Regions from separate parts of the Homo sapiens genome. Here all the other regions are reported to be linked to region 1. Evidence: microRNA targets listed by miRTarBase, many of them from high-throughput screens and not tested one by one. Region 1 holds a microRNA gene; each other region holds the end of a gene's coding sequence.

What was found. Region 1 holds the annotated microRNA hsa-miR-4722-5p (GGCAGGAGGGCUGUGCCAGGUUG, at 1,697-1,719, shown strand). A microRNA usually pairs through its seed, bases 2 to 8, with sites in the 3' UTR of a target mRNA and lowers its output. Matches are read on the target gene's strand: a 7mer-m8 pairs with bases 2 to 8, a 7mer-A1 pairs with bases 2 to 7 and ends in A, and an 8mer does both.
Region 2: miRTarBase lists FN3KRP as a target of hsa-miR-4722-5p. Seed matches in the 3' UTR shown: 7mer-A1 at 3,211-3,217.
Region 3: the mRNA of HAAO is a reported target of hsa-miR-4722-5p. Seed matches in the 3' UTR shown: 7mer-m8 at 401-407 and 7mer-m8 at 519-525.
Region 4: miRTarBase lists SLC19A3 as a target of hsa-miR-4722-5p. Seed matches in the 3' UTR shown: 7mer-m8 at 2,667-2,673 and 7mer-m8 at 3,127-3,133.
Region 5: miRTarBase lists SNX22 as a target of hsa-miR-4722-5p. Seed matches in the 3' UTR shown: 7mer-m8 at 3,126-3,132, 7mer-m8 at 2,538-2,544 and 7mer-m8 at 1,544-1,550.
Region 6: the mRNA of CCDC120 is a reported target of hsa-miR-4722-5p. Seed matches in the 3' UTR shown: 7mer-m8 at 1,654-1,660.
Region 7: miRTarBase lists ZCCHC4 as a target of hsa-miR-4722-5p. Seed matches in the 3' UTR shown: 7mer-m8 at 897-903.

Annotation. Positions count from the first base shown.
Region 1 is chr16:88,713,944-88,718,033 of GRCh38, reverse strand. It overlaps MIR4722 (microRNA 4722), which reads left to right and starts at 1,697; the gene lies at 1,697-1,756. It overlaps CTU2 (cytosolic thiouridylase subunit 2), which reads right to left. Exons shown (of 15, transcript NM_001012759.3): 10 at 3,807-3,898; 11 at 3,548-3,651; 12 at 3,297-3,447; 13 at 3,108-3,174; 14 at 2,928-2,986; 15 at 2,638-2,852. The coding sequence ends at 2,783. PIEZO1 (piezo type mechanosensitive ion channel component 1 (Er blood group)) reads left to right here. Exons shown (of 51, transcript NM_001142864.4): 45 at 823-1,011; 46 at 1,136-1,228; 47 at 1,303-1,475; 48 at 1,551-1,673; 49 at 1,757-1,836; 50 at 1,915-2,101; 51 at 2,180-2,696. The coding sequence ends at 2,429.
Region 2 is chr17:82,726,829-82,730,918 of GRCh38, reverse strand. It overlaps FN3KRP (fructosamine 3 kinase related protein), which reads right to left. Exons shown (of 6, transcript NM_024619.4): 6 at 2,906-4,086. The coding sequence ends at 3,748. Among named protein-coding and RNA genes, the nearest start is that of FN3K, 6.7 kb to the left of the region's middle. RefSeq lists an enhancer at 638-1,138.
Region 3 is chr2:42,763,603-42,767,692 of GRCh38, reverse strand. HAAO (3-hydroxyanthranilate 3,4-dioxygenase) reads left to right here. Exons shown (of 10, transcript NM_012205.3): 9 at 16-98; 10 at 178-604. The coding sequence ends at 256. OXER1 (oxoeicosanoid receptor 1) reads left to right here and starts at 3,558. Exons shown (of 1, transcript NM_148962.5): 1 at 3,558-4,090. The coding sequence starts at 3,631. RefSeq lists an enhancer at 1-275.
Region 4 is chr2:227,684,020-227,688,019 of GRCh38, reverse strand. It overlaps SLC19A3 (solute carrier family 19 member 3), which reads left to right. Exons shown (of 6, transcript NM_025243.4): 6 at 447-4,000. The coding sequence ends at 623. Among named protein-coding and RNA genes, the nearest start is that of SCYGR5, 19 kb to the right of the region's middle.
Region 5 is chr15:64,154,203-64,158,202 of GRCh38, reverse strand. SNX22 (sorting nexin 22) reads right to left here. Exons shown (of 7, transcript NM_024798.3): 7 at 722-3,816. The coding sequence ends at 3,695. PPIB (peptidylprolyl isomerase B) reads left to right here. Exons shown (of 5, transcript NM_000942.5): 4 at 1,294-1,478; 5 at 2,058-2,386. The coding sequence ends at 2,180. Among named protein-coding and RNA genes, the nearest start is that of SNX22, 4.5 kb to the right of the region's middle. RefSeq lists enhancers at 3,757-3,916, 3,927-4,000, 3,792-4,000.
Region 6 is chrX:49,067,821-49,071,910 of GRCh38, forward strand. It overlaps CCDC120 (coiled-coil domain containing 120), which reads left to right. Exons shown (of 11, transcript NM_001163321.4): 10 at 1-270; 11 at 724-2,034. The coding sequence ends at 838. It overlaps PRAF2 (PRA1 domain family member 2), which reads right to left. Exons shown (of 3, transcript NM_007213.3): 3 at 3,341-4,090. The coding sequence ends at 4,049. Among named protein-coding and RNA genes, the nearest start is that of PRAF2, 4.1 kb to the right of the region's middle.
Region 7 is chr4:25,368,645-25,372,734 of GRCh38, forward strand. It overlaps ZCCHC4 (zinc finger CCHC-type containing 4), which reads left to right. Exons shown (of 13, transcript NM_024936.3): 13 at 385-1,739. The coding sequence ends at 520. Among named protein-coding and RNA genes, the nearest start is that of ANAPC4, 6.6 kb to the right of the region's middle.

The sequences.
Region 1 (4,090 bases):
TTCACTCACTGTAGCCTCTGCCTCCCAGGTTCAAGCGATTCTCCCACCTCAGCCTCCCGAGTAGCTGGGACTACAGGTGTGCACCACCAGGCCTGGCTAGTCTTTTGTATTTTTGGCCAGGTTCGTCTCAAACTCCTGACCTCAAAGTGCTGGGATGACAAGTGTGAGCCGCCACACCCAGCAGTTGGGTTGTTTTTTATTAGAGTTTTTTCTGTTTTTCTGCAGATACATTGGCTAGAAATGACTGAATTGGAAGAATTCTCTGTATTCTCTGGTTGCTAGAACCTTATCAATTAAAATTTGCAGAAAATTTCTCCAATTCTATGGACTGTCTCTTAAATTTTCTTGGTGTCTTTGGAAGCACAAAGTATTTATTTTGGTAATATCTGGTTTACTTTGTTTCCTTCGCCAAATCCAGGTTCATGAAGATTTGCCCGTTTTCTTCTAAAAGTTCTATAGTTTTAGCTCTGAAGTTTCGCTCTTTGATCCACTTTGAGGTAAATTTTGGCACATGGTATGAGGCAGGAGTTGCGTTTCATTCTCCTGCCTGGGGCGGTGCCTGCACCGTGTTGAAAAAGGTTGTCCGTTCCCACTGAACGGTCACAGCTCCCTTGTCTAAGATCAACGACCCCTGAACATGAGGGTTCCAACTGGACTCTTAGTTCTACTCCACTGGCCTGTGTCTGCCCACCATTACTACCGCTGTGCCATACTGAGGTCAGGCTGGGGCTTTTCTGGGCTGCTGGGTGAGCTGGAGAATGCGGTTGTGTGACCCGCAGGAAGGGCAGAGCTGAGCGTATGACCTGTGTCGTTCCCCTCCAGAAATACCCGCAGCCCAAAGGGCAGAAGAAGAAGAAGATCGTCAAGTACGGCATGGGTGGCCTCATCATCCTCTTCCTCATCGCCATCATCTGGTTCCCACTGCTCTTCATGTCGCTGGTGCGCTCCGTGGTTGGGGTTGTCAACCAGCCCATCGATGTCACCGTCACCCTGAAGCTGGGCGGCTATGAGGTGAGCATGTGTGGGTCCGCCTGTCCATTCCCATCCCCTGGGGGTTCTGGCCAAGGTGGTGCACCACCCCCAGCCGCTCCTCCACGCTCATCTTCGTGGCCCCGTGTCCCCGTGCCTGCCCCAGCCGCTGTTCACCATGAGCGCCCAGCAGCCGTCCATCATCCCCTTCACGGCCCAGGCCTATGAGGAGCTGTCCCGGCAGTTTGACCCCCAGCCGGTAAGTGGCCTCTGCCCTGTGAAAGCTGGTGTGGGGAGGCGGCTGCAGTCACTGAGGGTGTCACTTGTACCCAGCTGGCCATGCAGTTCATCAGCCAGTACAGCCCTGAGGACATCGTCACGGCGCAGATTGAGGGCAGCTCCGGGGCGCTGTGGCGCATCAGTCCCCCCAGCCGTGCCCAGATGAAGCGGGAGCTCTACAACGGCACGGCCGACATCACCCTGCGCTTCACCTGGAACTTCCAGAGGTTCGTCCTGGACTTGGGGCAGTGCCTGGGTGGGTGGACCCACTACAGTGGGTCACGCTGTGTTCCCACCCCCAGGGACCTGGCGAAGGGAGGCACTGTGGAGTATGCCAACGAGAAGCACATGCTGGCCCTGGCCCCCAACAGCACTGCACGGCGGCAGCTGGCCAGCCTGCTCGAGGGCACCTCGGACCAGTCTGTGTGAGTGAAGGGCCCGGGTGGTGGGCAGGAGGGCTGTGCCAGGTTGGCTGGGCCAGGCCTGACCTGCCAGCACCTCCCTGCAGGGTCATCCCTAATCTCTTCCCCAAGTACATCCGTGCCCCCAACGGGCCCGAAGCCAACCCTGTGAAGCAGCTGCAGCCCAGTGAGTATGGGCGTGGGGGTTGGGGGAGGCTAGAGAGGGGTGACCTGCGGCCTCAACGATCTTCTCCCTCCATCCCAGATGAGGAGGCCGACTACCTCGGCGTGCGTATCCAGCTGCGGAGGGAGCAGGGTGCGGGGGCCACCGGCTTCCTCGAATGGTGGGTCATCGAGCTGCAGGAGTGCCGGACCGACTGCAACCTGCTGCCCATGGTCATTTTCAGTGACAAGGTCAGCCCACCGAGCCTCGGCTTCCTGGCTGGCTACGGGTGAGTGAGTGGCTGGGGGGGCACCCCGCAGCTCGGGGGGCTCCGGGCGGCCCCAGGACTCACCAGCTTCCCCCGCAGCATCATGGGGCTGTACGTGTCCATCGTGCTGGTCATCGGCAAGTTCGTGCGCGGATTCTTCAGCGAGATCTCGCACTCCATTATGTTCGAGGAGCTGCCGTGCGTGGACCGCATCCTCAAGCTCTGCCAGGACATCTTCCTGGTGCGGGAGACTCGGGAGCTGGAGCTGGAGGAGGAGTTGTACGCCAAGCTCATCTTCCTCTACCGCTCACCGGAGACCATGATCAAGTGGACTCGTGAGAAGGAGTAGGAGCTGCTGCTGGCGCCCGAGAGGGAAGGAGCCGGCCTGCTGGGCAGCGTGGCCACAAGGGGCGGCACTCCTCAGGCCGGGGGAGCCACTGCCCCGTCCAAGGCCGCCAGCTGTGATGCATCCTCCCGGCCTGCCTGAGCCCTGATGCTGCTGTCAGAGAAGGACACTGCGTCCCCACGGCCTGCGTGGCGCTGCCGTCCCCCACGTGTACTGTAGAGTTTTTTTTTTAATTAAAAAATGTTTTATTTATACAAATGGACAATCAGAGGCCAGTCCCCCGTCCTTGCCTTCCGGCTCCAGTGTGGTGTACCAGGTGGCCACTGCCTGCTGTCCCGGCAAGCACGTCCTCACGCTCAGCTCTGGCCCGCCTCGTCGTCACTGTCCTCAATCAGACAGTCCCGGATCTCCTGCAAGCCCCAGGCCCTAGAGAGAAAGCTGCAGTGGGCACCAGCCCCGAGGCCCCTTACCCACGCGCCACGGCAGTGTGGGCCCCAGTACCTCTGTGTGCGGAGCTGGGCCTCAGCCAGGATGTACGGCGGCAGGGGGTCCAGTGAGGGCTGCAACAGAGGCCGGTGTCGAGGGGCCAAGAAACCTGCCAGCACCCCCTCAAGCCACCCACGAGGTGACGGCCTTCCCGCGTCCCCAAGCCCGGCCCAGGACAGGTGGGCACGTACTCACCAAGTCCTTCATGTTCACGCGGCAGCTGTAGCACAGCTGCTCCTCAATGCAGGCTTGGGGGTCCTCCCTGCGGGAGCAGAGCTGGCTGTGTGCCCACCTTGGCACCTCAATGCCGTGCAGTGTGGGGTAAGGACAGGTCCCCCTCCCGCCCCATGCAGCTGGCCATGGGTGGCAGGGACAGGGACTCACCTCCTGCAGGCCCCCTGGCCACAGCGCTGGGCCCAGCCCACCCCTGGAGAACAGCAGGGCCCCGGGGGTGTCCGGGTCTCAGTCAGGGGGATGGGTGACTGCATCTGGGAGAGACGCGAGGAGGTCTGAGCCCCAAAAGCCGTGGCACTGTCTGCAAGCAGAGAGGGGGTGACGGAGCCTGGGGCTGCTGAGCCCCCACACCCACTCCCTGGCTCCCTCCCCGCATCACCCCAAGAGCATGAAACACAGACCAGCGGCGTCGACGTCCAGGGCACACATGCAGAGGAGGCAGCGGGGGCCGGAGTCGCCAGCAGCAGGGCCATCCCGGGGGCCCTTCACCAGCTTCTCACTTGTCCTGTGGCCGGATTGTGGGAGGAGCAGGTGAATCACACGGGCTGGGGCTCCACCCTAAGCCCTGGCCTGAGCACGAGTGGTGAGCTCACCACCCGCACACACCCGCGCACAGCACACACCCGCGCACCCCCCGCACACACCCACACACACCCACACCTGTACACAGTGCTGACAGTGGAGGGGAACTGGGTCTGCAGCCTGAGGATGAAGGCCTCCATCAGCCGGTGGATGCTGGCCTTTTCAGGGGCCTAGGGACAATCAGATTGGAGGCTATGGGAAAGCCCAGAGGCCAGCCCCAGGCTGGGGCAGAGTCCCCAGGACAGGTGCCGTGGGTTCCACGCTGCTGGCCCACATGGGTCTGGCTTTGCTGCGACTGCTCAAGGCAGCCAGAGAACCCGCTTCAGCAGTGCACCCACTGTGGGGTCCTCCTGTCACCCCCA
Region 2 (4,090 bases), not on the chromosome of region 1:
TGGTCTCTCATGGACAGAATAATCCAGAAGAATCAACTCTGAGTAGATGCAAGGGCATCTATTGTGCCTGAAGCCTATAGGATTTTGATAGCCCTTTATGAAAAAGTGTGTATATATAAAAATATATAACATGCATATATTATAATAATACAAAATTAGATATTTTAGAATAAGCATTGCATCAACTTACAAATTTAAAATGCTGACACGGGGCCAGATGCGGCGGCTCACACCTGTAATCCCAGAACTTTGGGAGGCCGAGGTGGGCGGATCACTTGAGGTCAGGAGTTCGAGACCAGCCTGATCAACATGGTGAAACCCCATTTCTACTAAAAATATAAAAATTAGCCAGGTATGGTGGCAGGTGCCTGTAATCTCAGCTACTGGGGAGTCTGAGGCAGGAGAATCCCTTGAACCTGGGAGGCGGAGACTGCAGTGAGCCGAGATCATGTCACTGCACTCCAGCCTGGGTGACAGAGTGAGACTGTCTAAGAAAAATTAAAATTAAATAAAAAAGAAAATAAAAAATAAAAAGCTGACACATACCGCAGCATTGCAAAATCTGAAAACTACCCACTACTGTTTACCATTTCGACACCCCCGAGACACCCCTCCTGATGGTTCCATTTGGCTGCACTCTCAGCGACGGCCTCTCACAAGGTGCAGCCCGGCAATGTCATCGAGGAAGAGAAGGCCACCGCCTCTGGAGGACCGAACCATCCTTCCCGTCAACCACTTGGGGAGGCTCTCGTCACTGGTGATGTTGTGCTGATGCAGAATGACGTCCAGGGTCCCGGGCACCTGATGCTGTGCTGAGCAGAACAATGATGTCCAGGGTCCCAGGCACCTGATGCTGTGCTGAGTGGAACGATGATGTCCGGGCCCCGGGCACCTGATGTGCTGACACAGAACGATGATGTCCCGGGTCCCGGGCACCTGATGCTGTGCTGAGTGGAACGATGTCAGGGCCTTGAGCCAAGCGGCACACGCGCCGTCGGGATGGACCTACCCGGCAGGGAGGTGAGCGGCACAGGTGCTGTCGGGATGGACCTACCCGGTGGGGAGGTGAGCGGCACAGGTGCTGTCGGGATGGACCTACCTGGTGGGGAGCCAAGCGGCACACGCACCGTCTGGCAGGGAGGTGAGGGGCACAGGTGCTGTCGGGATGGACCTACCCGGCGGGTAGTCGAGCAGCACAGGTGCTGTCGGGATGGACCTACCCAGTGGGGGGAGTCGAGCGGCACAGGTGCTGTCGGGATGGACCCACCCAGTGGGGGGAGTCGAGCAGCACAGGTGCTGTCGGGATGGACCTACCCAGTGGGGGGAGCTGAGGGGCACATGCGCCGTCAGGATGGACCTACCCGGCAGGGAGTCGAGCAGCACACGTGCCATCGGGATGGCGCCGCTTTGGGACGTCCCTTTTCTTGGGAACACTTACCTTCTTCCCAGGGTCAAAGTAACAAGCTGCAGTCCTGGCCAACGGGAGCAGGTCCTGTCAGGTTGGAAACTGACCACACTCACGGTCCTTCCTCACTCCACACAAAAACCAGCATTCTAAAGGAACTCGGTTCTGTTCTGCCTTCTGCTGAGGGGCCCTGACTTACAACAGAAACAAGCAAACAAGACAAGTAATCAATCCATCCCCTCCGGCCCAGCTCATGACACCCTGGGTGACCCCTCAAACACGGGTGTTTGCCAAGTTCACCAAGTGGCTTCTTCCCCCAAAGGTAATTCTACAGCTACTTTCATTCTCCCTTTAATGTCTTCCACAGGGTGAGGAAGAATGGCAGCTAGGCTGCACCTCTGGTCAAATATCACAGACAGTTCTTAGGCTAGTCCTGCTCTTTGAAGCTCTGAGCTATCCTTCTACCCTAACAAAAAGGCAAGGTTAAAAAGAGTTTTTTTTAAGAAACAATAGTTGGGTCAGGGATGGTGGGTCAGGCCTGTAATCCCAGCACTTTGGGAGGCCAAGGCAGGCAGATTCCTTGAGGCCAGGAGTTCAAGACCAGCCTGGCCAAGATGGCAAAATCCCATCTCTACTAGAAATACAAAAATTAGCCAGGTGTGGTGGCACACACCTGTAATCCCAGCTACATCGGGAGGCTGAGACAGGAGAATCCTTGAACCCAGGAGGCAGAGGTTGCAGTGAGCTGAGATCGCACCACTATACTCCAGCCTGGGTGACAGAGCAAGACTCCATCTCAAAAAGAAAAAGAAAAAAGAAACAGCTGGGAGGCTGAGGCGGGTTGATTGCCTGAAGTCAGGAGTTGGAGACCAGCCTGGGCAACATGGTGAAACCCCGTCTCTACTAAAAATACAAAAATTAGCCACTGTGGTGACACACCGACTACTCCAGCTACTCAGGAGGCTGCGACATGAGAATTGCTTGAGCCCAGAAGGCGGAGGGCAGAGGTTGCAGGGAGCTGAGATCGCACCATTGCACCACTCCAGCTTGGAAACAGTGAGACTCTGTCTTAAAAAAAAAAAAGAAAGAAAGAAAGAACAGTTGGGTCAGGCATGGTGGCTCAGGCCTGTAATCCCAGCACTCGGGAGGCTAAGGTGGGAGGATTGCTTGAGCTCAGGAGTTTGAGACCAGCCTGGGCAACATGGCAAAACCTCATCTCTACTAAAAATACAAAAATTAGCCGGGTGTGGTGGTGCACGCCTGTAGTTCCAGCTACTCAAGAGGCTGAGATGGGAGGACTGCTAGAACCTGGGAGTTTGAGGCTGCAGTGAGCTATGATCATGCCACCGCACTGCAGCTTAGGCAACAGAACAAGACCGTCTCTAAAAACAACAACAAAAACACTAGTTGTACCTGTTTGTCACAAAATATTACAAGTTTTTCAGCAAACAACTAAGATATTGAATTACAATAAATGAGGGAAATATACAATCTTGTACGTTATCGAAACCACTGGAAGTTTATTCAAATTTTTGTGCAAAGGATTTATTAGCATCAATGCCATTCATGAAATATGTCTCTTTACTACAACAGTGAAGGAAGGAAAAATATGAGTTCAGCATGTATTTTAATGTTGCAAAGGAATGACAACTCAGCAAGCTGTAGAAAATGGCAGAGGAGACGGGGTAATAACAGAAGCAATGAAGACTCCTGGATGTACCCAAGGACACCCTATGGCCAGCAGCTTGGTTTCTCCCAGAATCAGTTTACAGACTTGCTCAGCCTGCGGGAGGGCCCAGGGATCATGCAGGAAGAAAACGGAATACGCTTGATTCTGGAATTGGTCATTTTAAGACGCTTTTAGTAAGATGGTTTCATGTCTACACCCAAGTCTTGCCAACCAAGAAGCATCAACGTGAACAGCTCAGAGACATTCCTGCACAGGAGAGCAGGGAGGAGGCAGTGGAAAGGTACCTATGAGCAGCAGTGCCCGGGGGCGCTGGCCACCTCCCTGCGCACCGGATACCCTCCCCCGCACCCACAGGGGTTCACTTACAGTTTCCCCACCTTGCAGCAGCAGTGAGGCTCAGAGTCACCCACACTCCATACATCCCTCTGCTCATACCCTGCCTGTAGTGTGGCTCCGTCTACCTACAAAGCCCCACAAAGTGGACAACGCTGGGATGACAAAACCTTTCCTCTTAGATATTATATACTTTGCAAGGCTTGGAAATAAGCTACTGCATTGGTCTTAAGCTAGTCCAGCATGTGAAGAAACAAGAATTTGCCCAGAAGAGGACTGTGGAGAAACCTCTGAGGCCTCCTTCCAGAGTAAGGCCCGCTCACTTGACCAGATTCCTCATGATGTTCAGGGAGGATCCTCTGTACCCCGATCCAAAATGATTCCAGTGGTTCAAGTAGTGAAAGAGCTGATACAACTGAAGGCGCTTCTCGAATCCTGGGGCCTTGGGGATTTTGCCGTGGTAGGCGGAGTAAAAGGAGCTGCTAAAGCCCCCAAACATGCCAGCTATTGCCAGCTCATATTCCGAGTGGCCGTAGAAAGAAGCTGGGTCAAAAATCACCGGCCCAGAGGAATCCTCTGCTACGTTTCCACCCCAGAGGTCCCCGTGGAGTAAGGCTGGGATGATCTCCAGGTCACGGAACAGGTCAGGGATCTTTAACTGC
Region 3 (4,090 bases), not on the chromosome of region 1:
GCTCCTCTTCTCCAGGAGGGCTCCTCGGTGGTGACAATGGGGGGACGGCGCCTGAGCCTGGCCCCTGATGACAGCCTCCTGGTGCTAGCTGGGACCTCGTGAGTACGCAGGGAGGGCTTTCCCTGGGATCCTCAGGGTCCAACTCTGTGTGATCCCTGCTCATCTGTGTGTCCACAGGTATGCCTGGGAGCGAACACAAGGCTCTGTGGCCCTGTCTGTGACCCAGGACCCTGCCTGCAAGAAGCCCCTGGGGTGACCCTCTTGCCATGGCCTGAAGCAGCCACAGGTGTGCCAAGCACCCTCGAGTGCCATCCCTGCCAAACAACTCTCCCAGCCCCCACTACCTCTCTGTGTACTGCCGCTGTGTCCCCCACAGACCTGCACATTGTTGTCACCCACCCTCCTGCCCTTCTCAGCCCAGATGCCATGCCCCTGGGCGGGCAGCAGCTCCCCATCTTCTCTGGCAGACTCAGCCCACTGCCTTGCCAGTCTTGCCAGGTGGTCTACCCCCGGCCCCGCTCCTGCCCATTCCTCTGTCCCTGCAGACTCAGTGCAGCACTTCCACACCAAGAAGGCCCTCAATAAAGGCTTCCTGAGGAACGCACACCTGGGGGTCTGCCGCAGGCAGTCATCACTGGCCTTCCCATGTGCCCCCCAGGACCATGTGGTGTGTCTGGGGCATCAGGGCACCAGGTGACCATGGACGTGTTGGAGGGTCTGTTATTGGGCATCCCTGTTTGTGGATGGGCATTCTTCACTGTGTGTGTGACTTGATCCACGCATGCTCCATGCCTGGTCCTGGGAGCACGGCTAATGTCATCTCTCCACTTCCTTCTCTGTTCTCATTTATTCTTTTTACTTTTTTTTTTTTTTTGAAACAGGATCTCACTGTCACCAAGGCTGGAGTGCAGTGGTGTGATCAGAGCTCACTGCAGCCTTGACCCTCCTGGCTCAAGTGATTCTCCCACCTCAGCCTTCTGAGTAGCTGGGACTACAGGCATGCACCACCACACCCTGTTAATTTTTTTTTTCTTTTTTGTAGAGATGGGGATTTCACCATGTTGCCCAGTCTGTCTTTTTACATAACTTTAAAACACTAGCATCTGTTGAGTTTTTTTCCAATAACAGAAGTCATCTGTGCTAACTATAGAAAACCCAGAAATACACAAAATCCCCCACCCAGAGCTAACCACTGTTAATACCTAAAGACTATGATCAGCCTGGAGAGGGGCATGAAGTTGTACCAGGAGCTCAGCAGTGTTGGTGGGGGTGTCTGGCCTTGTGTCCCCTTCCCTCCCCTGTCATGCACAGGTGCCCTGTTCAAAGACTCCAGAGGGACCCCTGAGCCTGCTATGGGTGTCTAGGGATGCTGGAGGCCTCAGAGGCACCAGTGGGAAGAGACAAGAATGTGGAACCTGCAGCGGGCGCAGCTCAGTTTCCTGGGACTTCCGTGAGAAGTCAATGAGGGCATGCACATGAGAGTGACAGATCTGGACAGAACAGGTCCCTGCGTGGACTCAAAGCTTCCTCTAGAAAAGAACACTTGACCCCTGTCTCCCTCATCCCCAGCCCAGTGGCTCACTGCCTTCCTACACTCCACTGGGAGCAGAGAAAGACCTGCCTTTGCTGAAAAGGCTACTGGCCCTAAGAGACATCGGGACCTTCAACCTCCTCGTCACCCCTAAGGGCTTTCCTCTCCTGCAAGCAAAGAAAAAACACCATCAGGCTCCTTCAAACACAAATGGTCCAGGATAGGCACAGGCAGAGGCTCCACGCGGCTCGTTCCTGGCCTGTAGCAATGCACTGCTCCGTGCAGGACCTGAGAAGAAGACATAGAATGTTCCAGGGAGGACCCAGGTCAGAATACCGATGGCCGTGAAGAGAAGAGTTTACTCTCATATGCAGGGCAAGCTTAATCCAGAGAGAAAGTCATGAAAATTAGATCTGTTTTTGTGAACACTCGCTCTGTCCCAAGGAATCCCCTAGAAGTTTGTTTTTTTTTTTTTTTTTTTTTTTGAGACGGAGTCTCACTCTGTTGCCCAGGCTGGAGTGCAGTGGCGCGATCTCAGCTCACTGCAAGCTCCGCCTCCCAGGTTCACGCCATTCTCCTGCCTCAGCCTCCCGAGTAGCTGGGACTACAGGCACCTGCCACCACGCCCGGCTACTTTTTTTGTATTTTTAGTAGAGACGGGGTTTCACCGTGTTAGCCAGGATGGTCTCGATCTCCTGACCTCGTGATCTGCCCGCCTCGGCCTCCCAAAGTGCTGGGATTACAGGCTTAAGCCACTGTGCCTGGCCTATAAGTTTTTACATAAATTATCTCATTTTATCCTCACAACTCTCCAAGAAGGTGGTAGTGCCTGATTTTACAGATCAGGCTCAGAGAGGTTTGGAAATAGGGCAGCTCTGTTTCCAACCCAGGCCTGTCTGCATATGGAGCTTAGGCTGGGCCTCACCACCCTGCTTCTCCCAGGGATGTTTGCCCTCAGCCTTGACCAAATGGGAGCCCAGGGCAGCCAAGAGAGGCCAGGGGCCACTGTGCCTGGGACACAGAGGCCAGGCCACACATGGCAGACTGCTGACCCCAGCCAGTTGGCAGTGATGGGGTCAGGCCCTGGAGCCTGGAACCAGCACCTCCCTTGGCCCTGCTGTCCCGGGTTATCAGGAGCCTGAAGCCCTCATCTCCACCCACAGGACCAGCCCATGGGCTCATGAGAATACCTCACCATGGGACAGCTGGACTTGTACCTTGTCTGGAGCTAGCCCCAGCCTCCCACTCCCTATTCCGCAGTGAATGCTAATGGGGGCAAGGAGTGGAGTGGACAAGGAGCCATGGGGAGACACAGACAGGGAAAAATCAGGATTGTTCTATTTGCGGGAGAAGCCCCCAGCTCCCCGTGCCATGGCAGTAGAAATTTGGCAGGGGCGTCCCCGTCCATGGGGCCTACTTCACCGTGTACCCGGACTTGGGACCATCACAGACTTCGGAACCATCAGGAACCTGGGAGCAACTGAAAGCTGAACTACAGTGGGCTTTCAGACACACAGCAGGCTGGCGGAGCACAAATAGGACTGGTTCCCTCCAGGCCACCAGCAGGGCGGTGGAGGTCTTCACTGACTCCCTGCCTACCTCTCAGGACAATGTCCTTTTGGCTCCACAGTCCCTGAAGCCAGAGCTGGTGGGGGCAGGGAGGCAGCCACCAGCCTCTATATGTAGTGGAGGAGGGGGTGTCCAGGGAGGGCTGCATGATCCTGAGAGCCCCCACCTCACCCGGCTGGACTATCCTCCCACTTCAGGGTTTCTCTGGGCTTCCATCTTGCCCCTGCTGAGCCCTGCTTCCTCCTCTACCAGCAGCACAACCCCCAGGCTGGGCTCAGAGACCTCATGTGGTGGGATCACTCAGTACCCCGAGGCGGAGGGAAGGAGGGAGGGCTGCAGGGTTCCCCTTGGCCTGCAAACAGGAACACAGGGTGTTTCTCAGTGGCTGCGAGAATGCTGATGAAAACCCCAGGATGTTGTGTCACCGTGGTGGCCAGCTGATAGTGCCAATCATCCCACTTTGCCCTGAGCACTCCTGCAGGGGTAGAAGACTCCAGAACCTTCTCTCAGGCCCATGGCCCAAGCAGCCCATGGAACTTCATAACCTGAGCTCTCCATCTCCCTCTCTCTCCTCCTCTGTTCTCCCTCCCTCCTTCTCTCCCTCACCCTCCTCTGCTCCCTCTGCCTTTACCACTGTGGGGGGGTCCTCTGGAGGGCCCTGCCACCCCACCTCTTCCTCGCTGGTGTCTGCCTTCCTGGCACCAATCCTGGCCCTGGAGTTTGTCCTGGGCCTGGTGGGGAACAGTTTGGCCCTCTTCATCTTCTGCATCCACACGCGGCCCTGGACCTCCAACACGGTGTTCCTGGTCAGCCTGGTGGCCGCTGACTTCCTCCTGATCAGCAACCTGCCCCTCCGCGTGGACTACTACCTCCTCCATGAGACCTGGCGCTTTGGGGCTGCTGCCTGCAAAGTCAACCTCTTCATGCTGTCCACCAACCGCACGGCCAGCGTTGTCTTCCTCACAGCCATCGCACTCAACCGCTACCTGA
Region 4 (4,000 bases), not on the chromosome of region 1:
AGGTTTTGAGCAATAATTGCAACTAGGACAACATTTACATGGATAAGGCAGGTAAGAAGTAACCTCAATGCTTAAATTTATTCTTGGAGACATTGAATGTAGCATTGCACCAGCCTCCAAACAAAGACATAGAGACAGGTCAATGAGTTTTAGTGTTTTTTTGGGTTTGTTTTGTTTTGTTTTTTACTATTGATGATAGTAACTATGATTTTAACCCAAGCAACCTGCTCTAAAGCCAAGACTCTTAGTCACCGTATTGCTTACACCTTCTTACTTGATCTTGATTTCTTACTTGATAGGAGAGTATTGTTCAACCTAAATGACCCATATTAAAAACCTGGGTCTCAGTTACCCCATAATCCAAGCAAACCAACAGTATTAGGATGTATTATCATTGACATAGATGGTCATATTTTATATGTGGCTAATTATTTGTTTTTCTCCAGTTTTTAGTTTATGGGAGCTATTTTGCAGTAATTGCTGGAATTTTCCTAATGAGAAGCATGTATATTACCTACTCAACCAAATCCCAGAAGGATGTACAGAGCCCTGCTCCAAGTGAGAATCCAGATGTGTCTCACCCAGAGGAAGAGAGTAATATCATCATGTCAACAAAACTCTAACCTCATCGCAACAAACGCAACAGTGGCTTTCAAAGTTATGCAATAATAAGGAAAGATTTTGAGATGGGTGGCATATGTTTTGCCATAACTTGACATGCTTTGCAAATCTGGATTCCAATGGACCTTTCAAAACCACAACAAAACCTCAGTTTTAGATGAGTTCTCTATGTGACCAATTTTACTGGATGCAATTGACAGGACCCGTCATCATAATTAAACAACCCATATTGGGGACCCCCTGTGACTAGTAGCAGCTGGAAAATTCTGGTTTTTATCACTTGTAAAGACATGCAGATGGCGTGGAACCAAACCATGAGAAAACTCCAGCCATCCTGGAGTTGATATTCACCATTTGTGAGGAGAAATACTAACTGGACTGACCCTATTGCTAGGCTTAAATACTTATTTGATCTTACCAAAGAAGTCAACACATGGGACCTTTGTGTCACATGAACCATTTTCTTTCCTCTTCTATTAAGTGTATTTCTGTTTAAGTTACAGTTCTCTAAGAGAATTACAATGTTTGTCCCATTTCTAAGGGCTTCTCTTCAACTCTAATAACAGCATTATTCACGTTATGATTTGATAGTATTATTATTTAATTTTTTTATGATTATTTTCCATTTTGTGCTCTGAGTTTTGCTGTTGAAAGTCTCCCTCAAGAATAGCTTCAGATCCTCTTGTGTATTTGCAGAATACACAAGGTCATTTCCCAGTGGCCTGGGAGAGGCAGTGAGCCTTCTCTCCACCACCATAGACAGGTGTTAATGCATCTATGGGCCAGGTGCAGTGGCTCACTCCTGTAATCCGAGCAATTTGGGAGGCCAAGGTGGGAGTTTTGCTTGAGGCCAGAGGTTCAAGACCAGCCTGGGCAACACAGTGACACCTGACTCTACTAAAAAATTAAAAAATTAGCTGGGCAGCGTGGTGTGTGCCTGTAGTCTCAGCTACTTGGGAGGCCATGGTGGGAGGATGGGTTGAGCACAGGAGTCAGAGGCTACAGTGAGCTATGATTGCACCATTGCACTCCAGCCTGGGCAACAGAGTAAGACTCTCATCCCCCTCCTCCCAAAAAAGAGCACCTGTGTGGTGTCTGTCTAAAATAGGAAAACTTAAAGGAGGTTTCTAGAAGTATTAGAAATAAGAAAACACTGATGGGGGGAGTGGAATAAAACACCTGATTTTGTTTTGTTTTGGTTTTTGAGACAGTCTCGCTCTCTCACCCAGGCTGGAATGCAATGGCGTGATCTTGGCTCACTGCAAACTTCACCTCCTGAGTTCAAGCCATTCTCCTACCTCAGCCTCCCAAGTAGCTGGGACTATGGGTGCACACCACCACGCCTGGCTAATTTTTGTATTTTTAGTGGAGATGGGGTTTCACAATGTTGGCCAGGCTGGTCTCAAACTCCTGACTTCAGGTGATCTGTCTGCCTCGGCCTCCCAAAGAGCTGAGATTACAGGCGTGAGCCACCATGCCTGGCCAAAACACCTGATTTTTAAATGGTAGCAATTGTGCTAAATAAAATGTGTAAAAATTTTAAAGAGTTGTTAACATTTTTTGATGAATTCTGCTGAAAATTATCTGAACATACCTGTTTTTCGAAACTTCAAGAAACTTCAATAAGGGATGCATTGAGCAGTCTGACAGTGAGAATAAAGAATGCTGAGTCAAGATTTATATTAAGGCTGGAAGCTGTGGCTCACACCTGTAATCCCAGCATTTTGGGAGGCTGAAGTGAGAGGTTAATTTGAGGGTAGGGGTATGAGACCATCTTGGCCAATATAGCAAGACCCTGTGTCTAAAACAAACAAAAAAATTTTTAATTGGATTTTGATATGGTTTGGATCTGTGTCCCCACCAAATCTCACGTTGAAGTGTAATCCCCAATGTTAGAGGTGGGGCCGGCTGGGAGGCGACTGGATCATGGGTGTGAAGCCTTCATGAATGGTTTGGCACCGTCCCCTCAGTGCTGGTCTCATGACAGTGAGTTATCGTGAGATCTGGTAGTTTAAAAGTGTGTAGCACCTCCCCACTCTCTCTTTCTCCTGCTTTGGCCACGTGAAGATGCCTGCTCCCACTTTGCCTTCTGCCATGAGTAAAAATTCCCCGAGGACTCCCTAGAAGCAGATGTTGCCACGCTTCCTATATAGCCTGTGAGCTAATTAAACCCCTTTTCTTACAAACTATCTAGTCTCAGGTGTTTCTTTATAGCAATGTGATAATGGACTAATATGTTTCTCAAGTATACTCCTCTCCAAATCCCGAAATTCTTCACTGGACTAAGATCCAGCCCAAGAATCAATGCACTCACTTAGTGGAGAAAACTAATAACATTCCTACTTACATTAAAGGCAAGGAAGGAATGGCCGCTATTCTTTTTCTTCTTCTTCTTTTTTTTTTTTTTTTTTTTTTTTTGATAGAATCTTGCTCTGTCACCCAGGCTGGAGTGCAATGACGCAATGTCAGCTCACTGCAACCTCCGCCTCCCGGGTTCAAGCAATTCTCCTGCCTCAGCCTCCCGAGTAGCTGGGATTACAGGCGTGCACCACCATGCCCGGCTGATTTTTGTATATTTAGTAGAGACGGGGTTTCACCATGTTGGTCAGGCTGGTTTCAAACTCCTGGTCTCAGGTGATCCGCCCGTCTCGGTCTCCCAAAGTGTTGGGATTACAGGCTTCAGCCACCTCACACCCAGTCTATTATCCTTCTTTTTTAACTTATTATTCTGGAGGCATTAGGCATCACAATTAGACAAACAAGAAAAATCAGAGGTCAGAAATTGGAAAGGAGGCCAGGTGCAGTGGCTCACGCCTGTAATCCCAACACTTTGGGAGGCTGAGGCGGTCAGATCACATGAGGCCAGGAATTGGAGGCAAGCCTGGGCAACATGATGAAACCCTGTATGTACTAAAAACAACAAAATTAGCCGGGTGTGGTCCATGCCTGTAATCCCAGCCACTCGGTGGCTGAAGCATAAGAGTCACTTAAACCCAGGAGGCAGAGGTTGCAGTGAGTTGAGATTGTGCCACTGCACTCCAGCCTGAGCGACAGAGTGAGACCCAAAGTGGATTAAAAAATGCATTATGATTCCTTCACATATTCACCTATAACAAAATTAACTGCTAAAAAATGAGGAAGATCTTTAGTGACACAGAACTCTAAGAGCTCTACTATCAAGTGGAAAAAAGTCAAGCACCAAAATAATAATGAACGCAGCAACTCAGCATTTGTATAAAAAGGACAAAAATATCTGTATTGGCTTATATATGCGTATAACTTTTCTAAAAAGACAAATGAGGCCTGGCACGGTGGCTCATGCCTGTAATCCTGGCACTTTGGGAGGCTGAGGTAGGTGGATTGCTTGAGTTCAGGAGTT
Region 5 (4,000 bases), not on the chromosome of region 1:
GGGACAACCTGAGCCACGTGCAGAGGAAAAGGGGTCAAAAGAATAACTGAGGTCTGGAGAGAAAGATGACAAGGTATGTTGAGTTTAAATAGAAATGTCCATTTGAGTTTGGAACCCCTGTATCTTGAGAGAGTGGCTGGAGCTAAGGATGGAGATTTGGGGGTTTTCTGGATAACAACTATAATCAAAATCCCACAGTTGGCTCAAATGGGGGAGGCTTTTAGCCAGCACTCCAGCCAGGTCTCACTGCACATGTGGCAGAGTCCAGTCTCCCCAGCGTGGGGGTGAGAGGTGGAGCACAGGCAGAAGCACCCTGTCCCCACCAGCCAGAGTCTGGTCATTCTTGGTTTTCAGTCATCCTACCTGCTGCCCAATCAGAAACATCTTCCTGGTTGGCATCTGTCTAGGACAGTTTCCCAGCTCAGTTCCATTCTGTGGAACCACAGGATGAAGGTAGGTGCAGTGAGAAGGAAAAAAGAGTTTTGCATGCAAATATGTTTGAAAGGTGTTAGATAAAACAAAATGAAAATGACCCCATTTTTGGCTGAGTTTCTTGGGGCCTCATGCACAGTGTCAGTCTCCAAGGGGTGATAGGGAAAAAGAAGGGTTTCGGTGTTCCTCGTGGAAGCAGCTTTGGAACTAGGATCTCTGAAATGGCATAGAGATCACTCCGGATTGCCCTTACCATATCCCCAAGCCCCACGTGGACAGACGCGTCACACACACTCACAGCTGTCTTTTATTCCTGTTCATTCCTTGTTAAGAGGCTTTGACTCTCCAGAATCCAAGGGGCAGCCCCTCTTTTCTGCCCCTCCCCACACATCTCTGGCTGCTTTCTCCTCTGCAGCTATGCCTGTGTCTTTTGTGCTCATAGGAAAACAGGCTGGTCAGCCACAGCAGTCCTCCTTTTCTGGAGAGTTCCGACCCTGTTGACTCCCCTGCATCCTGCACGGCACTTCCCTCCACCAAAGTCCCTCCGTGGCAGGCCTGGGCCATAGCTAAGGGGAGCTGATAACATGCGCCTTATTTAAAAGCCACAAAACTATCTTCTCAAAGTAATCCTTCTGTGAGCTGTTCACCACATCAGCCTGGCCTGATGCCCCACTTGGCCTCAGTCAGCATGGCTTGGCTCTGAGGCCAGAAGATAGGAAGGACGCTGCTTTTATGTCCTTGTAGTCCACTCCAGCCTAGCCTGGCACAGAGGACAGGTTAAGCCCCCTCAGTCCTGGCCCCGAATGTCTGCTTGGTTTGGCGCAATCCAGCGCCCCTGACCTGCTCTGTCTTTTTTCCCAGGAAAGAGCATCTACGGTGAGCGCTTCCCCGATGAGAACTTCAAACTGAAGCACTACGGGCCTGGCTGGGTGAGCATGGCCAACGCAGGCAAAGACACCAACGGCTCCCAGTTCTTCATCACGACAGTCAAGACAGCCTGGCTAGATGGCAAGCATGTGGTGTTTGGCAAAGTTCTAGAGGGCATGGTGAGTTGTGGAAGCAAGGGCTACTACTGGGCAATCCTCACCGGGGATTCAACACAGACCCCAGGGCAGGAGCTCCATGTGTCCATCCCTTTCCCAAAAGGACCCAACCCACAGATGCAGCCCAGTGCTCCTGTCCAGAATAAACCCTGTACCTCCATGCCTCCAAGGTTCTAAATTCTTCCAGCCCCCTCAGAGCCCAGCCAGGAAGGCTGCACAACTGCCAGAGCCTCCCTCCCCTCCTTCACTCAGTGACGTGCTGGTCCCACCCCTGAGGTATACAGAGTGCAGCTGAACGCAATGTCCCTGAGAAGCCACATGCCCTGGTCACCCTCTTCCTCCTCCTCACCCTTGGCCCAACCTGGGTCTTACTTCAAAGGAACAAAATTCCTGTACCCCCTCGTCAAATCTGCATTCTCCCTGCTCTGGCCAGGAGTCTGTTAGAATTTTGGTGCCTCCAGTTTTGTGTGCTGTTGATCACTTGTGGGTCTTAGCCCTCCTGAGCCATACGCTGGGGCCTTTCTCCTGAGCGGTGGACCTCCTGATCCACCATGCCCTCCTGCTTCCACCTTTCTTTTCCAGGAGGTGGTGCGGAAGGTGGAGAGCACCAAGACAGACAGCCGGGATAAACCCCTGAAGGATGTGATCATCGCAGACTGCGGCAAGATCGAGGTGGAGAAGCCCTTTGCCATCGCCAAGGAGTAGGGCACAGGGACATCTTTCTTTGAGTGACCGTCTGTGCAGGCCCTGTAGTCCGCCACAGGGCTCTGAGCTGCACTGGCCCCGGTGCTGGCATCTGGTGGAGCGGACCCACTCCCCTCACATTCCACAGGCCCATGGACTCACTTTTGTAACAAACTCCTACCAACACTGACCAATAAAAAAAAATGTGGGTTTTTTTTTTTTTAATATATAATGTGTGGGCCTGGTTCTTGAGCCTGCAGCACCTCCCCTAGGCCTACATCCCAACATGCCTGCAACTCTCCTGTGGCAATGGGTGCCTGCCCCTTCCCTGGGATCCTGCCTGAAATTTTGACCCAGGAGCTACCCAGGAAAAGTCAGGCAGGAGCTTTTGCCCCCTGCTTCTAAACTTTGCCAGCTACTGGGCCTCCACATTTGCTCCCCTTGCCACCACCCTCCAGTCTATGTTAAGGGATGTATCTGTACTTTTTCATAGCCTACCTCTAAATTGATTTTTTTTTTTTTTTTTTTTTTTTGGTAGAGACAGGTCTCACTATGTTGCGCTGGCTGGTCTCAAACTTCCAGACCCAAGCATCCTCCTGCCTTGGCCTCCTAAAGTATTGGGATTACAGGCATGAGCCTCTGCACCCAGCTGACTTCTTCCTTTATTATTTATTTATTTTGAGACGGAGTTTCACTCTTGTTGCCCAGGCTGGAGTGCAGTGGCGCGATCTCGGCTCACCACAACTTCCGCCTCCTGGCTTCAAGAGATTCTCCTGCCTTGGGCCGAGCACGGTGGCTCACGCCCGTAATCCCAGCACTTTGGGAAGCCGAGGCGGGTGGATCACCTGACGTCAGGAGTACAAGACCAGCCTGGCCAACGTGGTGAAACCCATCTCTATTAAAAATACAAAAATTAGCCGGGCATGGTGGCGGATGCCTGTAATCCCAGCTACTCGAGAGGCTGAGGCAGGAGAATTGCTTGAACCCGGGAAGCGGGGGTTGCCGTGAGCCGAGATCGTGCCATTGCATTCCAGCCTGGGCAACAAGAGTGAAACTCCGTCTCAAAAAAAAAAAAAAAAAAAAAAAAGAGATTCTCCTACCTCAGCTTCCCGAGTAGCTGGGATTACAGGCATGCACCACCACAATGCCCGGCTAATTTTGTATTTTTAGTAGAGACGGGGTTTCTCCATGGTGGTCAGGCTGGTCTCGAACTCCTGACTTCAGGTGATCCACCCATCTTGGCCTCCCAAAGTGCTGGGATTACAGGCATGAGCCACCGCGCCTGGCTGACTTCCTCTTTTATTACTTATCTTCTTGACCCTGCCTTGGCTGTTGGGCTCTAAGAGCATACAAATTCTACCACCTCCAGCTACCAATGCGAGCCAAGTTCTGAGCCTTGAGTGGGAATGTGGCACAACTGGGCACTGGGTAATTAAGTCCTGGGTCCAGGCCAAAGGAGGACCCAGCCTTATATGGAGTTCATAGGACAGAGGCACATGACTTTCTTAGGAGGCAGCCAAAGGCCTCTGGACTGATCAGGGCATCGGTGGCAGAGGAGCAGGGTGACAGGCCGCCTTTGGCTGGGCTTTATCTGGGCTGATGCTGAAGCTGTAGAGGCCCTGGAGCACACCATTCACCACCACGTTGGGCAGCGACTCTGTGGGATAGAATTAAACAGGTCTGGCCTCAGACCTGCAGCTCCTTGAGCTCCTGCTCATGGGCTCAGCCCCCACTTGGGAGTAGGAGCCCCTGCCAAGGCAGCAGACAGCAGCTGTCCACCCCAAATGAAGCCTCCGCATTCCCAGGTCACATTCTTTTCACATCAGCTTGGTAAAGAAGTC
Region 6 (4,090 bases), not on the chromosome of region 1:
GTGGATGCCCCCACCCACCCGTATCCCCTCGGCTGGTGAACGCAGTGGCCACAAGAACCTGGCTCTGGAGGGGCTGCGGGACTGGTACATCCGGAACTCGGGACTGGCTGCGGGGCCCCAGCGCCGGCCTGTGCTCCCTTCCGTGGGCCCGCCACACCCACCCTTCCTCCATGCCCGCTGCTATGAGGTGGGCCAGGCGCTGTACGGGGCCCCCAGCCAGGCGCCACTCCCACACTCGAGGAGTTTCACGGCGCCCCCTGTCTCTGGCAGGTATGGGGGGTGCTTTTACTGATGGGTAGGGGTCTCGTAAGGCAGATGGCGAAGATATCCAGGCCAGGGAGTGGCTAGTCATGATAGCTAATGAATTGGACCATGAGGAAACTAGCTGCTGTGATGGCACAGGGTCACTCTACTGCACATGACCTGCATTAGTCCATGGGGTCCTGGTGGAGGGGATCTTGGGCACTGGTAGCAGCAATTCTTTATCAAGTTATAGGCTGAAGATGAGCCTTGAAGCCAGGGTGCCGGGAGGAAGGGACATCTCATGCCCCTTGCTGTTTTCTTCCTTTTTTCTCCATGCCCCAGAGCCTGAAAGTGCTGTCCTGTGCCTGCCTCCACCTCTTTAACGAGCCTCTTTTCCTTTCTTTTTCTGTGTCTTGTCTGTCTTTTCTTCTTCTTGTCTTCCCCGCCCTGTCCTCCGGATTCCTGCTACCCCTTCTAAAGATACTACGCGGACTTCCTGTATCCCCCGGAGCTGAGCGCTCGTTTAAGTGACCTGACGCTAGAGGGGGAGCAGTCCTCCAGTTCTGACACCCAGACCCCGGGGACACTGGTCTGACCCCTTCTGATATGTCCCTTGTTGGCCTGGGCACGATTCCAATCTGGGGAGCACACAGCTGACCTCGCTGGGCCCTGGGGTGTGGTTGCTCTCAGTCCTGAGCAGAGTGCGCCAACCTAATCTTCCAAGGCCCCTGGCTCCCCGTAGGCCCAGGAAGGTGTCTGACACCCTGCTTCTTCTCTCACACTGTGCTGGGGACTGGGGGCCCTCAGCTAGCTTAAAAGAGGGGGGATGATGTCATGGGGACCCCAAGCCCCTTCCTCCATTTATGTTTACAGTTGTGACTTAGGTATTCACTGTCTTCCTCCAACACTAGGCGTTTTACAAAAGGGAAACTGTGATCTCATCTGGTTGGGTTCATTCCTGTTCCCATGCCCAACCAGGTTCCATTCAGGAACCCCCTCCATAAAATGGACCATATCGGGTCTCAGGGCCATTTAGGGCAGCCAGGAGACTCCGGTGTGAACAGAAATCCCTGCCACGCATCGCCAGGGCAGTTGGGGCAGTGGGCTCTCTGCCCACACTTGGAAGGACTGCAGTCTGGGTGGGATGCCTGAAAGAGCCCAACCCCCTCTGTGCCCATGGCCTCTGCCCTGACCACCCCCAGTCAGGAGGCCCCACAGGAGGGGCACCCGGTAGATGCCAGTGAAATCCTCAGGTGAGGTCTGCCTACGGGCCACGGGCCACTCACCACTCACACCTTCCTTGGCTTTCCTTCCACCCTTTTTTTTTTCTCGAGACGGAGTCTTGCTCTGTCACCAGGCTGGAGTGCAGCGGCGCAATCTCAGCTCACTGCAACCTCTGCCTCCTGGGTTCTCCTGCCTCACCCTCCCGAGTAGCTGGGATTACAGGCACACGCCACCATGCCCGGCTAATTTTTGTATTCTTAGTAGAGACAAGGTTTCACCATATTGGCCAGGCTGGTCTTGAACTCTTGACCTCGTGATCTGCCCGCCTTGGCCTCCCAAAGTGCTGGGATTACAGCCGTGAGCCACTGCACCCAGCCCCAATCCACCACTTTTTAAGCAAACCCACACAAGTTGTGTTTTCTATGATACCTGTCTGTGATTTTCGGAGCTGGGGGTTCCCCTACCCCCTTTTCCTGGCGTTAAGCTTTTCTTTTTATACCAGTGGATCTGGACCCAAGACATTACCCACACTGGAAGGGGATTTGTATAATAAATGTGTAAACTGAACCCATGTGTTGCTGCTCTGTCTGCCTCACCTTGAGGACCCACACCTCTAGTCAAGACCAGATAATATATTTTTGCAGGAAAAAACATACCTTGGGAATAGCCTGTGATAGTGTCATCTGTTTTGACTTTACTTGCTTTGTGATGTGGGGCAACTTCTTTGCCTGTCTGCACTCAAATTTCTAGCCAACCTCAAACAATAACTCTTGGTAATATAAATGGTGATAACAAAGACTCTGTCCTTAACCTCCCTATACATTTTTTAAAAATTTTTATTTTTTTGAGACAATGTCTCACTCTGTTGCCCAGGCTGAAATGTAGTGGCGCGATAACGGCTCACTGCAGCCTTGACCTCCTGGACTCACAATCTTCCCACCTCAGCCGCCTGAATAGCTGAAACTACAGTTGTGCACCACCATACCCGCTAATTAAAAAAGAAAAAAAAATTGTAGGCCGGGTACGCAGTGGCTCACGCCTGTAATCCTAGCACTTTGGGAGGCCAAGGTGGGCAGCTCACGAGGTCAGGAGATCAAGACCATCCTGGCTAACAGTAAAGCCCCGTCTCTACTAAAAATACAAAAAAAATTAGCCGGGCGTAGTGGCACGTGCCTGTAATCCCAGCTACTCGGGAGGTTGAGGCAGGAGAATCGCTTGAACCCGGGAGGCAGAGATTGCAGTGAGCCGAGATCATGCCACTGCACTCCAGCCAGGGCGACAGAGCAAGACTGTCTCAAAAAAAAAAAAAAAAGTAGAGATGGGGGTCTCATTATGTTGCCCAGGTTAGTCTCGGACTCCTAGGCTTGAGCAGTCCTCCTGCCTCAGCCTCCCAAAGTGCTGGGATTGCAGGCGTGAGCTACCATGCCCAGCTTTTTGAGACAGGTTCTCACTGTTGCCCAGGTTGGAGTGCAGTGGCACAATCACAGCTCACTGCAGCCTCTACCTCTTAGGCTCTGGCCATCCTGCCACAGCCTCCCAAGTAGCTGGGACTACAGAAGCACACCACCATGCCCAGCTAAATTTTAATTTTTTTGTAGCAATAAGAGTCTTGCTATATTGCCCAGGTTGGTCTCAAACTCCTAGCCTCAAGTGATCCTCTAGTCTCAGCCTCCCAAAGTGTTGGAATTACAGGCGTGAGCCACTGCACCTGTCCTTCCCTGTGCTTTAATGCTGATCCAGAGGTCATAAGTTCAAGGAAGGGCCTCAGAGATCACCTCTTCAGCCCACATATTCAGGAAGAGTCTAGCAGAATTGAAAAGTAGGCCACTTCTGTCCTTTGAAATGTACAAGGACTTTACCCAGGAGGCTCAAATTGGCATGAGAGATGCAACAGGCTTTATTGTTGCAGCAACACTAACATATACGCCCCATTCCCTGCTGAGGCCTGTCCCCACCTCACCCCTTGGTTGTCGATGGTGTGGAACATTGGGGTGAGGGGCAAAATGCCTAAGCAGAGCTGGAGGGAGGCAAATGGGACTGGTGAGGGTCGGGATCACCTGGACCAGGGGTCCAACAGTCAGGATACCCGACTCCATCCACACAGGGGCATGGAACACTTGGGTTCTGAGTTCAAGATTTGGCAATGTCTTGACCTGGGTTGGAAGGTAGGGTGGGGTCTGGAAAAGCTTTGGTCCAGGGTTCAAGATTTGAGAGTGCCTTGCCCCAGGCCCCAGTTTGGGGATGAGCATGGAGAAGGGTGGATGGGAGTGTCTCTGGGTTCACAATTTGAAATTGGCCATGGATGCTCTGGCCTGAAGCCAGTTTTGGGGCTGGATGTAGGTGGCTCTTGGTCCTGGGTTCAAGGCTGGGGAAGACTCTTGTCCCTAGGTAATGGGGGCTGGGTGTGAGGGATATCTTAGTTTGGGGCTGGCGTGGGGGTAGGGCGGTCACAGATGTCCTGTTTTGTTTGGGCAGGGGGCTCTAGGCTCCTGTTTTAAGTGCTGGGAAAGGGCTCTGGGTCCCAATTATGGGCTGGGGGTGGGGTGGTATTCTCCAGGTCCTGGGTACAGATCCCAGGGGCCTAGGATCCAGCCTCCTGCTCTTGTCCCAGTGCCTCTAGTAG
Region 7 (4,090 bases), not on the chromosome of region 1:
TCCTCTCCAAAAAAAACGGAATTCAAGGATTTGGAGATTGAAGTGCTGAGTTGAGCAATACAGATGTACAAAAAACTTTTTTAAAAAGTCCAATCTCACTAGCTTTGCATTTACCTCTGTGGTGTGTTTGCCCCGGACAGCTTGTTCTAAATCCATAGTAACCATCTTTTAAAGAATTTTTTTTTCTCAAACATTTTGCTTGGTTAGGCCTCTGACTCTTCCCTTGTTGTTATGGTTAGGAGACTGAGGATTTATGCTTGCAATACAGTAGATTCTTTCCCTTCTTCTATTTTCTTATTTGGTTAGCTAGTTAATTAAACTTCAACATAATTACATAATTCACTGTGCTCATTCTGTGAAATAATTTAGCACCTTGTTTTCCAGAGCTGTCAGAAAGCAGAAGCAAAGAAAAAGTAATAAGATGAAAATGGAGACCACGAAAGGACAATCCATGAATCATACATCTGCTACAAGGAGAAAGAAAAGGAGGGAAAGAGCCCATCAATATCTTGGCTCTTAAATGTCCAGTGACTGGAGAATAAGAAAGATTTATGGTCCAACCTTTGATGCCATTTTCTGAAAGTGCCACACTGGACTTAAATTCAGCTGCTTCCAGAGGTGTGCACCTTTCTGAGCTAGATAACAGGCAGGTGGCATTTGCTGGTTTACAGTCCCTTATCTGCCTCTCTGGAGACATGGGGAGTTGTTCCATCTTCAGCCAGTTTACTAGTTCTTTCAGCATTCATTTTTCCTCACTTTAAGTCTCTCCCAGTCACATTGTTCTATTTTTATGTTTTCATTTTTTTTGAGATGGAGTCTTGCTCTGTCTCCCAGGCTAGAGTGCAATGGCACAACCTCAGCTCACTGCAACCTCTGCCTCCCGGGTTCAAGCAATTCTCCTGCCTTAGCCTCCTGAGTAGCTGGAATTATAGGCACATGCCACCACGACTGGCTAATTTTTGTATTTTTAGTAGAGACGGGGTTTCACCATGTTGGCCAGGCTGGTCTCGAACTCCTGGCCTCAAGTGATTTGCCTGCCTTGGCCTCCCAAAGTGCTGGGATTACAGGCATGAGCCACCTCACCCAGCTCCGGTCACATTATTCTAGCCTTTTTATCCAAAAAATGGGCAGACCATTCTTTTGCAGAAGATGTCAGAAGAAAATGAAAGTGAAAACCTATGCAGTTTGTTTACCGTGAACATAAAAGTATGTTAATTTAAATAGGAAAATATTTTATGTTAAATATGAAACAATAGTTTAAACCCCACTTGAAAAGTATAGCGTACAATTATTTTTAGACTGAATTTGAAGATGATGGAAAGGGTTTTTACAAAGGCACTGTTTAGATATACAGATTATAATTATAATTACATTATTATTAAATATTTATTCTTCAAGTACTTTTTGCAGTTGTCCTCTGACGGTCTAGAATCACTTAAATGCTTGTTGAATGAGTGAGATGTTTAGAACTACGACTTGCTCTGTCATTCCAGTGTCGTTTAACCTATGCAGTAAGATTCTGTCTTTGTAAAAGTAGTTCGTAGCAGAAGCCAGGATAGTTTGGTAATTAAACGCCCAAACTAAACTCCTCATTCCTACCCTTAATATTTCCTGGCTGTATGATCTTGGCCAGGTCACTCTCTAAAAGCCCCGGTTTCTTCATTATTATCATTATTATAATGGGGAGAATAACAGCTATACCTGAGGTTTGTTTTGTGATTAAATTAAATGAGACCCAAGTGCTTGGCTCTCAGTTCTCCTCTGTCATTGGTGTGTTAGGTTAACAATGAAGATTGTTACTGGGTCTAATGGTAATTACCTTTTGGCCTGATAACAAAGCATTGAAGGCAGTAATTTGAACTCCCAGAACAAACAGTTCATCTCCCCGTTTCTGTGCTAGTTATTGTCTCCTTAAGACTGAATTGTTTTGAATGACTTATATTTGCATAATGACTTTTCTCTTGTTTCCAAACAACTGCTGTAGAGCAGATTTGAAGGCATCTTTGTTTGGGGTTAGGCAGAGCCCTGTAAGTAAGGGTGGAGGAACTGCACTCTATCTGGTATTTAAATTCCAGGTAAGTTAGGACTGATGCCTGGTGTAGAATGCTCAAGTGTGGCCCAGATCAGTGTGGCAGTGGTGTACATCAGTTGATGTCAAAAGATGAGTTATACCCCTGGACTTCATAAGCATCAGAAAGCTCTTCTCCCTTTTGTTACATGGAGGGCTATGATAGGAGGGGCACATTTGGAGGTGACTGGGTGAGATATGAAGTTTGTAAAACCGTTGTGAGAGTTCCCCTCTCTGATTCAAGCAAGGATAGGGACATTGCCTGACTTTATGGTGTTCACCATTCCATGATAAAATCTATTGAAATCTCCTCTGAAACTAAGACACCTGAGGGACTATGACTACTGAAAAATTGAGTTCTGAAGGCCAACAGTTATTCTCATCACTATATTGCCTTAATGTTAAGATACCATCAATTATAAAATACATCATTGATTTTATCATAGCTTTTCAGGGGGAGAAGAGAAATAATACTTCATTAATTAATTTTTAGATCATCTGATTTCAGAAATACTGAAATGCAAAAAAAAAAAAAATCTTAGAATTGAGGAAATAGTTATAATCAGGAATAATGTACTTATTTATTTTGAGACAGAGTCTTGCTTTGTTGGACAGGCTGGAATGCAGTGGTGGGATCTCTGCTCACCGCAACCTCTGCCTCCTGGGTTCAAGTGATTCTTGTGCCTCAGCCTCCCTGGTAGCTGGGATTATGGGTGTGTGCCACCACACCCGGCTAATTTTTATATTTTTGTAGAGACTGGGTTTCGCCATGTTGGCCAGGCGAGTCTCAAACTCCTCATCTCAGGTGATCTGCCCGCCTCAGCTTCCCAAAGTGCTGGGATTACAGACGTGAGCCACCACACCCAGCCAGGAATAATGTACTTTAAAACTTTATTACTGTCTTAGAAAGTTAAAAATAGGAAATTTGGTGATTTTACACTTATATTCAATTAATACTAATTTTAAGGACTTAATCTCTATTCCTTTTTCAGAGAATAAACTAATTGGTAGCCTGTAAAAATGTGTCTCTGGGAGGTAGAATGTGAAGCGGGATGAGGTCATTTGTTCTTAATAGAAATCTGAACATCTTAACATTAAGATACCTTCTCAAAATAGCAATAGAAGAAAATCCCTAAAATTTGACAGATAACATTTTCTAAGCTTTTTAAAAGGACATTTTTAATAAATACAGCTAAATTTCATTCTTCTTATATTATGAAATTTAATGAGAAACAAAGTCTTTTTGTAGGCTGGATTTCATGTTTTTTCCTAATTAGTCCAGTACCTAGACTAGTTTATCACTCCATATGCCCCATTCTTTTCATCCGATACTGTTCTTTCTGCTTGGAATATGTCCCTCCATGTGGCCACTCCGTTCTCTTTTGGGAATCTTCCACGAGTCCCTGATACTGAAACCTTCTTTGGCCCCTTGGTGTTTGATACCACATTTAAGGCCTTTCACATATTATTCTGTGATTATTTTTACTGATTTTATTTCCCTCAAAGATTTAGGTCTCTTAATGTCAGCACCCATTTCATCTGCTCTTGTGTATCTTGTGCCTTTTTGGTGCTCAATAAAAATTTGATGTAAGCATGGAATTTTCTAGAGGCTTTGAAGTGGTAGGCATGCCTGAAATACGGACTGGACCCACTCTATTATGTTTCTTCTAGGGACTGAAAAGGGAAACAGATTTGTATTAGGAGGCACTTAGAGTCAATATGAGGACCACCCTAACTGAAGTTTTAAATGTGGGGATGTGCTGCGTGAAGATTAGTAGCCTTGTAGCAGGATGAGCCGTGGACAAAACCCCACAGACACCAAGATAGTGAAGGAAGTAGCTTTTAATCAGTTGGAAGCATCGACAGTCTAGTGTCTTAAAATCCGAGTTTGTTGAGTGCACAATTTCTGTCCCTTTTAAGGGCTCACAACACTAAAGATTTTACATGACAGGGCCGTGATCGATTGAGCAATCTAGGGGGTATGTGACAGGGGCTGCATGCACCGGTAATCAGAGTGAAACA